2 separate regions of the Homo sapiens genome follow, and region 2 is linked to region 1. Evidence: fine-mapped expression QTL. Tissue or cell type: whole blood. Region 1 holds a variant in brackets; the other region holds the start of a gene. All regions are shown on one strand. Distances are from middle to middle.

Region 1 (8,109 bases):
TTTATTTTATTTTGAGACAGAGTCTCACTCTGTTGCCCAGGCTGGATTGCAGTGGTGTGATCCTGGCTCACTGCAACCTCCGCCTCCCAGGTTCAAGCGATTCTCCTGCTTCAGCCTCCTGAGTAGCTGGGATTACAGGCACGCACCACCACACCTGGCTAATTTTGTGGGTTTTCTTTCTTTCTTTCTTTCTTTCTTTTTTTTTTTTTTTTTTGAGACGGAGTCTTGCTCTGTCACCTAGGCTGGAGTGCAGTGGCGCAATCGCGGCTCACTGCAACCTTCACCTCCCGGGTTCAAGCGATTCTCCTGCCTCAGCTTCCTGAGTAGCTGGGATTACAAGCGCATGCCACCATGCCCGGCTGATTTCTGTATTTTTAGTAGAAACGTGGTTTCACCATGTTGGTCAAACTTGTCTCAAACTCCTGACCTTGTGATCCGCCCACCTCTGCCTCCCAAAGTGCTAGGATTACAGGCGTGAGCCACCATGCCTAGCCTAGCTAATTTTTATATTTTTAGTAGACAGGGTTTTACCATATTGGCCAGGCTGGTCTGAAACTCCTGACCTCAGGTGATCCGCCTGTCTTGGCCTCTCAGTGGGCTGGGATTACAGGCGTGAGCCACCACACCTGGCCTATTTATTGATTTTGTAGAGATGGGTTCTCACTGTTTCCCAGGCTTGTCTTGAACTCCTGGCTGCAAACAATCCTGCCTCAGCCTCCCAAAGTGCTGGGCTTGCAGGTCACCACACCTGGCCTTCCTGTTAAAGGTTTATAAAAGCAAATAAATGATACACAACTTAAGCTTTAATTTGATTATGAATGATGCTTATTCCTTTTATGTCATTGGGCTAGTCAAACTTACAAGAGCCTGGGCCAATGTAGTCTTGAGTCTTGTGGGCCAGTCCAGCAACCAAAAAAAAAACCACAGGTGAGACTGGAAGCAGGAGGGAACCTTGTGGTGGTGCTGCTAGCCCTCCACTCACCTCTCATACTATTTGTTCATCAACCTGACTGCTTTGTATTTCTATATAGAATGCAAAATCTGCATCGCTAAGCTTTTATGATGTATCTTAGATAATTTGCATGAGGTCACATTTGCTTAAATCCAATTTTATACAACCCAAGGAACATCTGTAATATAAAAGCCAGAAAACCTCCATAAGTTCACATTTCACAGCCAAGGATTTCGTAATATCAGGCTACTCCTTCTATCATTATGATTGTGCCCATGTGATTGCCCTTTCTGAACAACTGTGTTTTCCCTGGACGTTTGCAAGATTCTATAGTGTAGTAACATCATGGAGTAGGGCATTCTCATTTTATCCTAATTGTTCATGCCTCAGGGCTCTGGCAAGGATCACAATTCTGGGAGAGGGTCATGCCACACTGAAATTAGACCTGGAGGGGAGAGGATCTGTACCCAAGGAGGTGGCATCAGGGTCTGCTCTGAGTCCCTGTGTCACCTGGCTTCCTTATTTCCGTTTCTTCTTTCTTAGGACTTCAGCTTGTCTGTGGTCTCTCAAGACCACACCAGCCTGTCTTTTTTGGGGGGTTGTGTTCTGCCAGCTTAATCACTTTATTCTCTTGGTATTTCTTTAAATTTGTGAGAGAGAAATTCTTGCGCAGTTACTAGTCTTTTTGTATCAAGCAGTGTGAGTCACCTGTGATTTGGCTACTTTGGGCTAAGTGTGTGACCCAACACAATCAACTAAAGTTGAAATTAAAATGAGTGTGATACGAAATTTACCTCAGGACACAGAAGGATGTGGTAGACACCAGACTTAATTTCCTGTTAGAGATGACCGCCATTTATTGAGGATTTACTATGTGTCAGATGCTCTGTAAAGGTCTTTAGGTATATTATTTAATTTTGCAATAATCCCATAAGGTAATTGTCACCATTTTATAGATGGAGAAATGAAGATTCAGAGTGGTAAAATAACTTGCTGAAAGTTATTTAGGTAGTAAGTAGCTGACCCAGGGCTTGGATCTGGACCTGCCTAGCCTAATGAATATTCTTTTAGCCACTATACTGTACTTGCATACTGTGGGGAGGCATGGACTGGAGCATGAAGGTCTTGATAGATCACATGGAAGAGACAGCTAGGCTATCTGCACATCCACGTTCCTTTCTCCAAAATTGCCGCTGGACTGCCCACATTCTTCCCCCGGTTACAGCGTATGGTTTAATAAGGGAATTACTCCTAACCCAAGCTGGACAACTCAGGTTGGCTCAAGGACACAGGACTCTAGACCACGTAACTTACAAGGCTGAGGGCACTATTTGGGAGGAGGCAGCCAGTCATATTTATCATCCACTATGTACCAGGTATTCTAAGGACTAGGAAGACAGCAGTAAACAAAACAGACAAAATCTGTGTAATAGAAATACTGTGGACAAAGCAGAAAAAATCTTGACCTAGTGGGCCTGGAATTCCAGAGTCATGTGTAAGAAGAACAGAGGAAGAAGCTGGTCTGCATAGAGGTCATGCATCCTGTAGCAGACTGGATCATTATTCTCGATTCTTCACCTCTGTGTATCGTGCCCTTGCCATGGCTTCTCCGTGAATGGAGTGTACTTCCCTGTCCCTTGACTTTGAGCTTGACCAAGTCACTTGCTTTGGCCAATAGAATGTTAATGGAGCTGATGTAAGCAGAGTACTTTTAGCAGTTTGCTTGTGCTCCTGTCATTTACCGTGAGAAGAGCATGCCCTGGGTAGCCATTGATCCATGAAGGATGAGAAACATGGAGCAAACCTAAACCCAGTCTGCAGCCGGTGCTGGGTGTGGTGGCTTACACTTGTAATTCCAGCTACTTGGGAAGCTGAGGTAGGAGGATTGCCTGAAGCCCAGGAGTTTGAGGCTGCAGTGAGCTATAGTCGTGTCACTGCACTTCAGGATAGGTGACAGAGCAAGACCGCATCCTCTAAAAAAAATTTTTTTTTTTTAATCTGCAACCTGGAGTCCAGCCTAACCTAGCTGAGTTGCAGCCAACCTACAGATCTGTGATGAGTAGTTAAATGATTATTGTTTTGAATCATTGAATCTTGGGGTAGTTTGTTACACGTCTTTACTGAAGTAACCTCTCACTGAAACAGCATGAAAGAAAAGCTGCCTTAATGCTCAGCCGCTTTCCAGCTTCATGTCACAGTCTCATGGGTTCCAGCAGTAATTCCTGCTTTAGGTTGTCTGTAAGATATGCCCAAATCGCTATAGTAAATTTAACTTATAATAAATTCTACTTGGGATATGATCATTTGCATTCCCATCTTTAAAAAAAAATGGCACCGGGAATGGTGTAATAAGTGACAGACAGAGAAAATGTGGAAGTGTCTGTGGGATTACAGAAGGGTAGGATGCAGGGTAGTGAAAGTTCCCCAATTCTGGATGAGACACAAACCATCCATGATATAAGGTTCTGAAGAGCCAACTGATTGATTTCTTGTGTGTCCTTGAGATCTAAACCACAGGCCTCATGGGGCTGAGGAGGATTTTTTTGTAAAACGTAGTGGAAAAGGGAAACTCTCTGGTCCTCAGTGGCACATCACCATGCTGAGTGTGACCTTGAAGGCAGTGAGAAGCCCTTAAAGTGTCATGATCACTGAAAGCCTTCTGAGGGAGGAGGGGCTTGATACAGAGAGGTTTAGCAGTAGACACAACTGGATTTGGGCATCAGTTTGAAGCAAAGGAGAGTGAGAAGTTAAATCCAGAATTCTGGATTAGGTGACTGAATAGATGATGGCGTCATTCATCATGATAGGGAAGTAATCCAGGAAGAGTTGCAGGTAAAGGTGGGTAAAAGACGTGTTCAATTTTGAATACCTGTTGGACATCCACATGGAGATGTCCCATTTCCATACAGACTTGGAACTCTGTGAGAGAGTGGGCTAGAGATACAGCTTAAGGACTTAGGACAAAGCTCCAAGGAATACAAACATTTAAAGGGCTAACAATGTCGATGAAAGAGACAGGTTGTACAGAGACACTGGACTAAATTGGGAGAGATTTACAGCTTATAAGTGACAGTTCACAAGGAAATAGTACATTTGAAGCTGAACACCAGATCCACTGTTCTCACCTCTGAACATGACTGCTCCACCTAGGGCTTAGGAAAAGTAGCTCCGTGTGATGAATT[G/A]GCGCTGGACACTCAAAATCATAGCCTTCTACAGAAAGGTTTCCTATAAGGATATTTCCTGTAAGGAACTTATATTTCACACCCATGCTTGACCAAGCAGGTATGGCATAATGGGAAGCATGTTTTTTAAAAAGGGAAACAACACATTGGATATGCAATACGATTTTGATTTTGTTAAAATACATAGAATATTGAACAGAAATAGATCATATCAAACAGAAATAGAACACACATTAGTGGTGAAAATGAAAAAGAAAACCATTGATCAAGGTGATCAAGGGTCAGTATGACCTTGACCAAGTCAGTTAGCTTTTCTGAGCATCCTCATCTATAGAGTAGAGATGAGGTTAAATTGCCTACCCTGCAGGATTACTTGAAGTGTTAATGAGATTAAACTAACACTGGAAATTGTAAAGGCCTGTACAAATCTCACATATTAGGGAGCTTCCAAACACTAATGTTTTGTTCCAGGGAAATCTGTTTCTAAGGGGGCCTCACCAAAATGATGTTTGATGTTGGTTAAAATGAATTGGCTGATCACTTCTTAGGTTTTCTTGAGTGAGATCTGAAAAGTCTCAAAACTCTGAAAATTCTACAGCCATGTTTATTTTTCACTAGAGCTAAACTAAGTAAAGATGTACCATGCTTGATATTTCATTGCAAATCTGATTTGTACTGGAGCATCAAGAACTCTTTAGTCGTGGTCTTATTGTATACTTTGTGCTGCCTCTAAACACCTTTCCTTGTTTTTTGAGACGGAGTCTCGCTCTGTCACCCAGGCTGGAGTGCAGTGGTGCGATCTCAACTCACTGCAACCTCCACCTCCTGGGTTCAAGTGATTCTCCTGCCTCAGCCTCCCGAGTAGCTGAGATTACAGGAGCCCGCCACCATGCCCAGCTAATTTTTGTGCTTTTAGTAGAGATGGGTTTTCACCATGTTGGCCAGGCTGGTCTCGAACTCCTGACCTAAAGTAATCCACCCACCTCGGCCTCCCAAAGTGCTGGGATTACAGGCTGCAGTGAGCCACTGCACCCGTCCTAAATTAACTTTTAAACACCAGCTTCCTGTGTTCCACTGCCAAGGCTACAGCCCATATTTATAAAAACTATTCTGCTTGCTAGAACACCTCATAATTACATACTGACCTTGTATCAATATTGAGCTTGTTGACCTGCAGGCTGTTTAGAGGTTCAGGACTTACCAGACCATCTGCCAAATGCTGCCATTGGTAATGCTTTTCTCTATTACTGTAATGAAATCGCTAAAATCATTTCCTGTTCCCAGTCCTTGTTCAGATCTTCTATCTACTGTCAATAAAAGGATATTAAAATACTCAGAAAAGTCCACATATCCTTTTCATCCTGGTCCACAGTGTAGCACATGGCTTTATGTTTTAGTGTTGGAAATAATAAATGATCAATGACGTCAAGCCTGTTGTAATAAAAGAAGGCTGCTTATTAAACTCCCTCTCTCCAGCTGTTTTTCCTTTGACATCACGGGATCTGTTTATAATGACCTTTATGGGTTTTCCCCCTTACCATTCAGGCTTTATATGATTACAAGAGAAATTAAAGTTCTGTGAACAGTCTCTTCACAGAAGTGACACTTTCCTGCTCAGGCCCAATGTGCATGCAGGCTCCAACAACAGGATAGTGGGAAGAAGGAACAAAGAGGCTTCCCGTTCCCTTGGAGAAGCCTGACTTCCTGAAGTATGGGCTTGCTTCCAGGAAGCAGTATACATTGAAAGCAGTCAGTGGGTAAGGATTGTATATATTAATCACAGCCCACAATTCAAGCAAATGCATATACTATGGCTTTATTATGTCACTCAACATACGATCATGTAGTTTTGTTTTGAGTGGTGCCTGTTGAACCTAAACCATTTGAGGAATTTGGCATCTCTGCAAATTCGTTCTTTTGGGGGGCTGTATTTTGGAAGGCTGATGGCCTTTGTCAATCTATGAATGTGCTTCCTTCAAAATGCAACTGGTGTTGGACTTTTCCTATCTGTACCCAGGAATAAGCCAATTGGCAGGAATTTCTGGAGGAAACTCCTAAATCCTTTAACACTGCCCCTGCCCCCCATCACAGAGAAGTCTGTACTCTGTTGTCATTGGAAGAACAAAAGTTTGTTGATGCCCTGGAATAAAATCTCTAAATTAAATTCTCTAATTTCTTTTTATATTTATTTTAGGTTTGAACAAACCAGATAACTGTTCTGTTTGTCCTAAGTGACCTCTAGAGATTGTTGCCATTTCCATGATGTTCAATATTCAAAGCAATTTGGAGACTTCTTGTTCCAGATGCACCCCTTTGTTCGTTGCTCACATCAAGTGATATCTGACTGGTCTTTAAAGATCCAAATTTCACAATTTTGGATGAGCCTTGACTGATCTGAAAATGTTAGATTTTTCTCTTTCATTCTGTTTGAACATGCTTTAGTGTGAGTTGGCTATTTCTTTAGAGCAATTAAGGAAAAATGCCCAATTTCCCAGAACAACTCACAAAGTACTCATGGATTATTTCATTTTCTTAGGAAGTTGCCTACTTGCTAAAAGGTGTACCCTGAGCATTTGTGACTCCGAGGGAAACCAGGAACATCATGCTGCAGAAACCCTTTGGAGGAACGTGCCAACTGCTCCGTAACCATGAGCTGGCTCTCCTTTGATGGAGAGATTAATAGTTTCCATAATTATATCATCCTGGTTGTTCTGGGGCCAGAGTTTACTTAGACTTGAAAGAAATTGAAGTTAATTGAAAAAGAAAAAAAAATTCTTCCTGTCTTATTTCCCCTTTAAGCCTCTCATCTAGAGAAATGATGAGAAAGAGATTCAAGGATTTGTTGCCAATGGGAGCCAAAATGTTTCTTTTGAAATTGTAGATAAAAAGAACCAGAAGAAAGCAATTGGATGGTGGGGAGGGGGTAGTTATGGGAAAGGGGTTACAGCTCTGCCTAAATAATTCCAAACAACAGAAACACTGGGCAGCGGAGCCAGTGTACATGTGGCGGGTTGTCCCGGGGAGTGGACGTCGGTTCTGGAAACAAGTGCAGAAGGAGCAGAAGAGAAGTTTGGTAGTTGATGTGATTGTTAGTAGAAGAATTGGATTGGTCTACTGATTTTTATCTGTGTCTGTGTCTAATACAGAGGAGCTACCATCAGCTTATTTGCCACATCGTAGAGTTTGGGAATACTTATCTTTGGTTAAAATCCATTTTTTCTTGCTCTAAAATTTGAGCTCAATTTTTTCTTTGTAAAGCCCCTATCATCACTCTTGACCAGTTCTCTCAAACTGCACTCCAGTAAGATTGCTATTGGACCTTGGAGAGTTTCAGTGGGCGGACGATGTGGCCCTCCCTGGGAGAAATGGGATGTTAATAGAACATAGGTTCTATTGAGAGTGTCATGTCTTCAGTCAAAGATGAATTTCCAATATGTGATCACCAAGTGCTTTGTTGAAGCTTATTGAACCCGTAAGAGAGAAACTGAATTGTAGATTAACACTTCTCATTCATTCATTCATTCCAAAGTATATTGTGATTTGAACTTATTGTGTGTTAAGCACTGTGCTCAGTTAGTGGGACTAAGGAGGTGACAATTCAAGATAGGAGGAAGACAAGGGGGCTAGTTAATAGCTGTTCATTCCATCAGTTTCTGAAAGTTCAAGGTCCATCTCACTTCTCCTGAAGCTATGTACTTTCACTCTTCCAACTTCTATGCTAGTCGGAGATGTGGGGGTCTCTTGAGGATTACACAACTATAAGTGATGTATATATTTAGTGAGAGAATATCTCCCTGTAGTTTATATGCAGGCTCAACAGCACCCTTCCACCACTGCCCACCCTCCATGACAATTAAGGACAGCAGATAAATGCTTCCACCCACTCCTCTTTTGGGACTTAACAAGGAAATCACTCAGACCACTCTCATTCCAACCCAGGGCTTGGCCATATCTCACCTGTAGAGGGAGGTTCTG
Region 2 (8,109 bases), 27 kb after region 1:
TCTCCATTTCCATCCATGTTGTTGCAAATGACAGAATCTCATTCTTTTTTATGGCTGAATGGTACTCCATTGTGTGTAAGTACCACATTTTCTTTAACCATTCGTCTGTTGATGAACACAGGTTGTTTTCAAATCTTGACTATTGTGAACAGTGCTGCAACAAACATGAGAGTGCAGATATCTCTTCAATACGCTGATTTCCTTCCTTTGGGTATATACCCAGCAGTGGGAGTGCTGGATCATATGGTAGCTCTATTTTCAGTTTTTTGAGGCACGTCCAAACTGTTCTTCATAGTGGTCGTACTAATTTATTATACATTCCCACCAACAGTGTACAAGGGTTCCCTTTTCTCCACATCCTCTCTAGTATTTGTTATTGCCTGACCAGGGTGAGATGACATGTTATTGTAGTTTTGATTTGCATTTATCTGATGACCAAGGATGTTGAGCACCTTTTCATATGTCTATTTGCCATTTGTATGTCTTCTTTGGAGAAATGTCTATTCAAATCTTTTGACCATTTTTAATTGGATTATTAAATTTTTTCCTATAGAGCTGTTTGAACTCCTTATATATTCTGGTTATTAATCCCTTGTCAGATGGGTACTTTGCAAATATTTTCTCCCATTCTGTGAGTTGTCTCTTCTCTTTGTCAATTGTTTCCTTTGCTGTACAGAAGTTTTTTAACTTGATGTGATCCCATGCAATCATTTTTCCTTTGGTTGCCTGTGCTTGTGGGGTATCACTCAAGACATTTTTGAGTAGACTGATGTCCTGGAGTGTTTCCCCAATGTTTTCTTGCAGTGGTTTCATAGTATGAGGTCTTAGATTTGAGTCTTTAATCCATTTTGATTTGATTTTTATATATGGTGAGAGATAGGGGTCTAGTTTCATTCTTCTGATGGATATCCAGTTTTCCCAGCAGCATTTATTGGAGAGACTGTCCTTTCCCCATTGTATGTTCTTGGCAACTTTGTCAATAATGAGTTCACTGTAGGTGTGTGGATCCGTTTCTGGGTTCTCTATTTTGTTCCATTGGTCTATGTGTCTGTTTTTATGCCAGAACCATGCTGTTTTGGTTACTGTAGCTCTGCAGTATAATTTGAAGTCAGGTAATGTGATTCCTCCAGTTTTGTGCTTTTTGCTCAGGATAGCTTTGGCTGTTCTGGGTCTTTTGTGATTCCATATAAATTTTAGGGTTGTTTTTTCTATTTCTGTAAGGAAAGTCTTTGGTATTTTGATAGGGATTGCCTTGAATCTGTAGATTGCTTTGGGTAGCATGGACATTTGAACAATAAGGATTCTTCCGATCCATGAACTTGGAATAGCCTTCTGTTCTTTTGGTGTCCTCTTTAATTTCTTTCATGAGTATTTTATAGTTTTCATTGTAGAGATCTTTCACTCCTTTGGTTAATTCCTAGGTACTTATTTTATTTGTGGCTATTGTAAATGGGATTAATTTCTTTTTCATACTGTTCACCATTGGCATACAGAAACGCTATTGATTTTTGTATGTTGATTTTGTATCCTGCAACATTAGTGAATTATTTAATCAGTTCAAATAGTTTTTTGGTGGAGTCTTTAGGTTTTTCCAAATATAGGATCATATCATCTGCAAACAAGGATAATTTGACTTCTTCCTTTCCAGTTTGGATGCCCTTTATTTCTTCTCTTGTCTGATTGCTCTAGCTAGAACTTCCAGTACTATGTTGAATAATAGTGGTGAAATTGGGCATCCTTATCGTGTTCCAGATCTACAAGGAAAGGCTTTCAGTTTAGGAAAGACATCTTTGACCTCAGCTTGGTTCTGAAAGGTCTCTCCCTGACCAGTATTTTTTATGGCATTGAAGTAAGAGCACTGGATTTAAACTCAGACACTTTTGCTTGATTATTGATGGTACTTACTAGCCTGTGCCAGAATAACGTCTTAGAGCCACCCCTGTGCTTCAATTTCCGTATCTGTAAAATACAAATAATATGTACCTCATAGAAGCATTATACAGATAAAAGAAAAATGCATAGAAAAGCTGTAAAGATCCTGAGCTTTAAAGTACATCCATACTCAGCAAAAAAGAAAACAGGAAAGAAAAGGAACAAATCACTAATACCTGCATGAAACTCAAAAGCATTATGTTAAGTGCCAGGAGCCAAAAATCTGTACATATTTCATGATTTCATTTCTGTGACATTCCAGAGAAGGCAAAACTGTGGAGACAGAAATCAGATCAGTGGCTGCCAGGGGCTGGGTGTGAGGTGAGAGACTTTAGACAAGGGAAATTTCTCGCAGTGATAGAAATGTTCTATATTTTGATCGTTTGGTGGTTACACAACTATACATGTTTGTCAAAACTCAGAATTGTACACCTCACAGGGTGAATATTACTGTATGTTAATTATACATCAATAAATCTTACTTTTCAAACATTGGAGGAAAGAATGTCCTATAATATACTTCGTTATGTGTACAGTCCTTTGGGATAAGGAGCTAATCGACTGACTACTCAACCAGTAAATACCTATTCCAAATTTTTTGCCTCTATGTCCTGTTGTTCACAATAGCACGTAATATGATTTTTTGCTAATATAGAATGCTTCTCTGCTTGCAGCTTAAAATTTTTTTTTAATTAGAAGGGCACTGAACACTTCTCTTCTAAAAAGTTCAACTAACTGTTGCTCTGCCTCAAGGAATGGGGGAAAGCACCAAGAGAATAATAAGTCAGGACTGGGCTATTAAATAGCCCAGAAGCACAGAGAGGTGTGGGAGGTGGGGGGATTCTTGCTTTGGTCTCCAACAGGCGAGAAGCACTGCAGTCCTATAGCAGGTCATTGTGTCGATAATAGGCGTTATCTTGGTTTGGAGAGAATGTCCAACTCTGGATTGTTCAGTGTTAGTCAGACTTGTGTGGTTAAGGACGGCCTAACATTCACTTAATTAAAACACCAGTCAGATACACGCAGAGATTGAGGCGTGCAAGTCTCTGGGAGCAGGCGGACGCGACTGCCCACGCCCCACACCCGCCGGCCCTCCCTTCTCATTGGCCGCTGCCCAGCTGCTCCGACGCCCGCTTCTATAAGAGACAGGCAGCGCGGGGCCGCCGGCCGACCCAGCCTGCACCTACTGGCGCCCGAGGTGAGTGAGGCGGCCCTTCCCGCGGGCACCGGGGACCGCCGTCGAGGCTTTGGCGGCGCTTGGCAGGCGCGGGGCTGGGCAGAGTCACCCTCCCGGGAGGTAAATTGGTGGTCTTGCGGAGTCAGATTTGGGAGGTCGGAGTTGTACCCCTATAAACGCTTACTATTCTTTCCTCCCACGCTGTTTGGGGAGAAAAGACACTTTCTGAGTGCCTCCTGTGTGCCAGGAACAGACTCTTTAGCCATCATGAGATTTCACCTTCATGACAAACTCTGGTAGATATTTCTTGAGTCCCCAGATGAGGAAAGTGGGGTCCAGAGTCCAACCCAAGTCTGTGTGACTCCTCTATGTTGGCAGAAACAGTAAGATTTTTCTTCCTTCCCTTCCTCTCCATCAAAGGGCAATGTCTCTTTTTTTCTTCTCCTCCCATGAAGGGAAGCTTCCCTTAAACAGCCTCCCGAAGAAGAAGGAGTCTCAGATGCAAAGCTTCTCAGCATCGCACTTACCATCATCACCACCATCCCAACAGACGACTGAGAGCTTTTTGCAAGGTCGCAATTGACAAAGAGGACTAGGTCCTTGCGGTTTAGAGTCAGTTAAGAGTCCGTGTGAACTCAACCTTGCCTTTGGCGTTTGATTTTCAGAGGTTTAAAATGAACTTCTCATTGATGTCCCACTCTACTTGACTTAGCAGGAAAAAGACTAGAGTTGAACTTGCTAACCCAGGAAAAGTTTGTGCCTGTTAGTTAAAAAAAAAAGGGGGGGGTGGAATTCTAATATCAATGTTTCTGTAAAGTTATAATCTGTGGTTTACATATGTTATCACTGAGGTCCATTTGTACATGTATTATTAGATTATCTCCAGATAGGGATGTGTCTTCTATTTCCATTTTCTCTGCCAGTGCCTTTATTTCCTAGAATACTGTTTTTCATGGATAGTGTTTTCTTTTGTATTTCATCTACACTTTCATCCTCATTCCCACTCCTTATTTAGAAAAGAAAATCAAGACTCCGTAGAGGATTCCCTCCCTCTGAAAGAATCCTCCTTGCAGTTTTTAGTTCTGTCTTCAAACAATATCCATGCTTTCAAAAGACTAATTCAGTAGTGCTTTGTGCTTCCTAGATCCGGTAAATATAAATTACACTTGTTTTACTGATTAAACTAAGGGAAGAAAAGAGTTGGTCATTGTATACGCCTTGACCTCTCCCAAGGGTCGGGTCTGTTGATCTTCTGAGTGTCTTCTTGGTATTTTTTCCTTATTTCCAGTGGTATGTCCTACACAGTGCATCCTTAGGCCAGGAGACGCAGTAGGAAAATGACTCTACCTTTCATGAGAAAAGGGTACCAGTTGGTATTAGCTGATCAGAGAGTTGCTTTAAAAATAAAATGCTTATGTATTGATGAGACACTGATTCAAACAAGTGTGACCTATTTTATCTTACCAGGTTAGTATTGTGTTTTTTTGTTTTGTTTTGTTTTGTTTTGTTTTCCTGAAAGAGTAGGAGGAGGTGGGTAGGTTGAAAGGGGAAAGGAAAAAGTAACAAGGCAAAATATTGAGGTTCTGAAAGCGGTTTGGGGTTAACTGGAGGAAAAAATAACTGATGCCTCATAAGCTCTGTCAACCAAGCAAAGTTATGGCCAAGTTTTAGTAACGATCAAAGATCTATGTCCTGTAAGATTATTTTGGGGTGGGGGGGAACAAAAAAGAGGGTGAGAATTTTCTTCTAGTTTTCTAGTTTCTTAGCAAAAGTTCCTTTTGAGAACCTTCATTTTTACCATGACTTAAACAAGGAGGAGTGTTTCCACATCTTTTTTTTTGAGACGCAGTCTTGCTCTGTCACCTGGGCTGGAGTGCAGTGGCGTGATCCTGGCTCACTGCAACCTCCGCCTCCCAGGTTCAAGCCATTCTCCTACCTCAGCCTCCCAAGTAGCTGGGACTACAGGCGCCCGCCACCACACCCAGCCAATTTTTGTATTTTTAGTAGAGACGGGGTTTCACCATGTTGGCCAGGATGGTCTCGCTCTCTTGACCTCATGATTCGCCCGCCTCGGCCTCCTAAAGTGCTGGGAATTACAGGTGTGAGCCACTTACATCTTAATATAATAATGTATGTCTTTAAATACATCAAAATAATATAAATGCCTTGCATATCATAAATTTCAATTAATGTATCCTTCACCCTCCTCTCCCCACACCAACTAAGGAGATGTTGGCACAAAACTTGATCCATTCCAGAATCAGGTAAAGAAAATAATTATGAACCCTAAAGGGATGGAGCCATGACTGTTAGCACCTTCTCACAATAGCAACTTCCAGGAAAGCTTAGGGACCAGTTTTGAAAATTGAAGGAAATTCTCTTTTTTTTTTTTTTAAGAGACAGGGTTTCACTCTGTCACCCAGGCTGGACTGCAGTGGCGCGATCATGGATCACTGCAGCCTAGAACTCCTGAGCTCAAGCAAGCCTCCTGCCTCAGCCTCCCTAGTAGCTGGGACTGCAGGTGAAAGCCACTATGCCCAGCTAACTTAAACAATTTTTTTTGTTGTTGTTGTTCATACAGCATCTCACTATGTTACCCAGGCTCTTCATAATAGTTTTTGTTGTTGTTGTTGTTTGTTTGTTTTTGTTTTTGTTTTTTGAGACGGAGTCTCACTCTACTGCCCTGCCAGAGTGCAGCGACACGATCTTGCTCCCTGCAACCTCTGCCTCCTGAGTTCAAACGATTTTCATGCCTCAGCCTCCCGAGTAGCTGGGATTACATGCATGTGTCATCATGCCAGGCTAATTTTTGTATTTTTAGTAGAGACGGGGTTTCACCATGTTGGCCAGGCTGGTCTTCAACTCCTGACCTCAAGTGATCCACCCACTTTGGCTTTCCAATGTGCTGGGATTACAGGCATGAGCCGCAGCAGCTGGCCTCATATAGTTTTATATGAAGAGTTTTATTCCAAGCTCCAAGAGGTTGTTGAAAGACAAATTATCAGGAGATCTAGAATTCTGTTAGTGTTACCACTGACTGGAAAAAATCAGTGGTAACTTTTCTTTACTGTTCTCTGATCCTTGCTCCCAGTTCTTAAAGCTGATTTACATGATGAAGCTAGTGGTTGGCCAGGAAATAGCTTATATTTGCAGAATCCTCTTCCTTCTGCATGTCATGGTGATGGTATCAGGAAACATGAGGACTCAGTAACTATAGGGTAACTCAGTACATTTTACTTTGGGGTCTTTGTCTATTTGTTTGCAAAAAAACTGCTGAATTATTTTCTTGAGATTTGGAATTTAATACACTTTAGGGGTTTTATAATAAATTAATGAAACTGAAATCACCTTGATACAAAACAATACTGACATTTTATATCATAAAGCAACTTTTCCACATGTTTGCTATTGTAAGAAATATGTTAACCATCTTGTAAAATGCCTAATTCCTAGGGCAAGAAAAATTCTTAGCCAGAGGTATTTAGAATGTCTATTTCATTACTTGAACATTTTCTCTTTTTTTGAAAACTGGAAAATTTGGGACATATTCCCCATTACTTGAGATAATACTTATTGAGTACTTAGTGTAGGTTAGCAACTGTTCTAAGAGTTTTATGTAAATTATAACTATTTAATTCTCATAAGTTTATATATGTTTAATCCTCCTTATAATCATGAGAGTGGTGTTAATTATCCTCCCTCCAAGTTTGCAAATAAAGAGGTTGATACATATAAAGATTATAACTTGCCTAGATGGATTTGCAGAAAGATTTATTACTAGCAATTTGTTATATTATTTTGCATCTCTTTTATTGTTTACATTTTCACGCTTTAGGACAACGTCGCCCATACTCTGTGTTTGATAAGAAAAGTCAATCTTTGAGTGGTAATTGAATGGGTAAGAAACGTTTCTGAAAGTTTTCACATCCCTAAAAACATTTTGAGAATGCTTATCTGAGGCCATCCCTGAATTTTTAGCCCCAGAGCCACCAATTTGGAATTTTCTGTGTATACTTAAGTTTACCTTAAGAAATGGTCACTTCCTTTGAAGTGGAAAATCTCTTAAGATCTCCTGCTTCTCATCCATAAATCCTTTCTCAGCAGAGACTCATGGATGGGCTAGAAGCTATATTCAGTCATCTTTAGAAGCACATGGGATATTGATCAAAGGGGTGGGGTGGTGGGAAGGTGAGGGGTGGTTGAGTGTACTCCTTGGGTGTCATGGCTGGGATCTCAGTGTCCCTTCTTTTCTGCTTATTTGTACTTATTGAGAAGTCTGTCTTCCATTTTCTCCTTCCCCATGAACAAGTGTGTGAATTATTTGGAGGCAAGTTGTCTTGTTTTTAAATTTTTACTGCCCTAACTTTGACTGTGGTGCTTCACACATGTGAATGCGCTTGGGTTGAAATTTTATTCGTTTTACCATTAGTAATTATTTGAATCAAAGAAAAATCCACATAATTATTCAGTTTAACTGGCCATTTAGTTTTATAGCATTTGAAATAGAAATTGTTTTTAGTTCTAGAGACTAATTTGGCATAATTTAAAAATCTTGGTAGTTTTGGAAACTTGAACCCAATGAATTCATAAATGTTAGTTAAATTTTGAATTATGTATCTCTAACTCTTCTTGGTACCTGAAATATCCTAGTTTCTTCCGTGAGGAAAATCTCAGAATAGCACGCCATGTTATGATGTTTTAAAACGAGTGAGAATTTTGGATGTTATGAGTTCTGGTAGCTGTTTGGTAACTTAGTTTTATATTAGAAAGGTTAAGTAGCATGCCCGAGGTCATACACTGATAAACATGAGGCCAATGATTAGATATGTCTGACTTCACATTCCACATATTTCCTTACACTGTTTTGCAGTGTAAATAGGTGGTTAAGAAGATACCAAAGTAGATCTCTGGTTCATCTTCTGAGAAGCAGAACTAGAATTCTCCTGGCTAGCAGTTATCCATCTAGTGCATATGTATCTAGAGCTGGCCAGGCCTTTAGT

The links. PIP is the estimated chance that this variant, and not a neighbour inherited with it, causes the effect.
Region 2: TPH1 starts here. The variant in region 1 is fine-mapped to the expression of TPH1 in whole blood (TOPMed, PIP above 0.99). The same link has a PIP of 0.9 or more in sun-exposed skin and thyroid.

What each region holds. Positions count from the first base shown.
Region 1 is chr11:18,068,722-18,076,830 of GRCh38, reverse strand. No RefSeq gene overlaps it. Among named protein-coding and RNA genes, the nearest start is that of TPH1, 27 kb to the right of the region's middle. The variant G/A (reference allele first, on the strand shown) is at 4,135.
Region 2 is chr11:18,041,262-18,049,370 of GRCh38, reverse strand. It overlaps TPH1 (tryptophan hydroxylase 1), which reads left to right and starts at 3,102. Exons shown (of 11, transcript NM_004179.3): 1 at 3,102-3,130.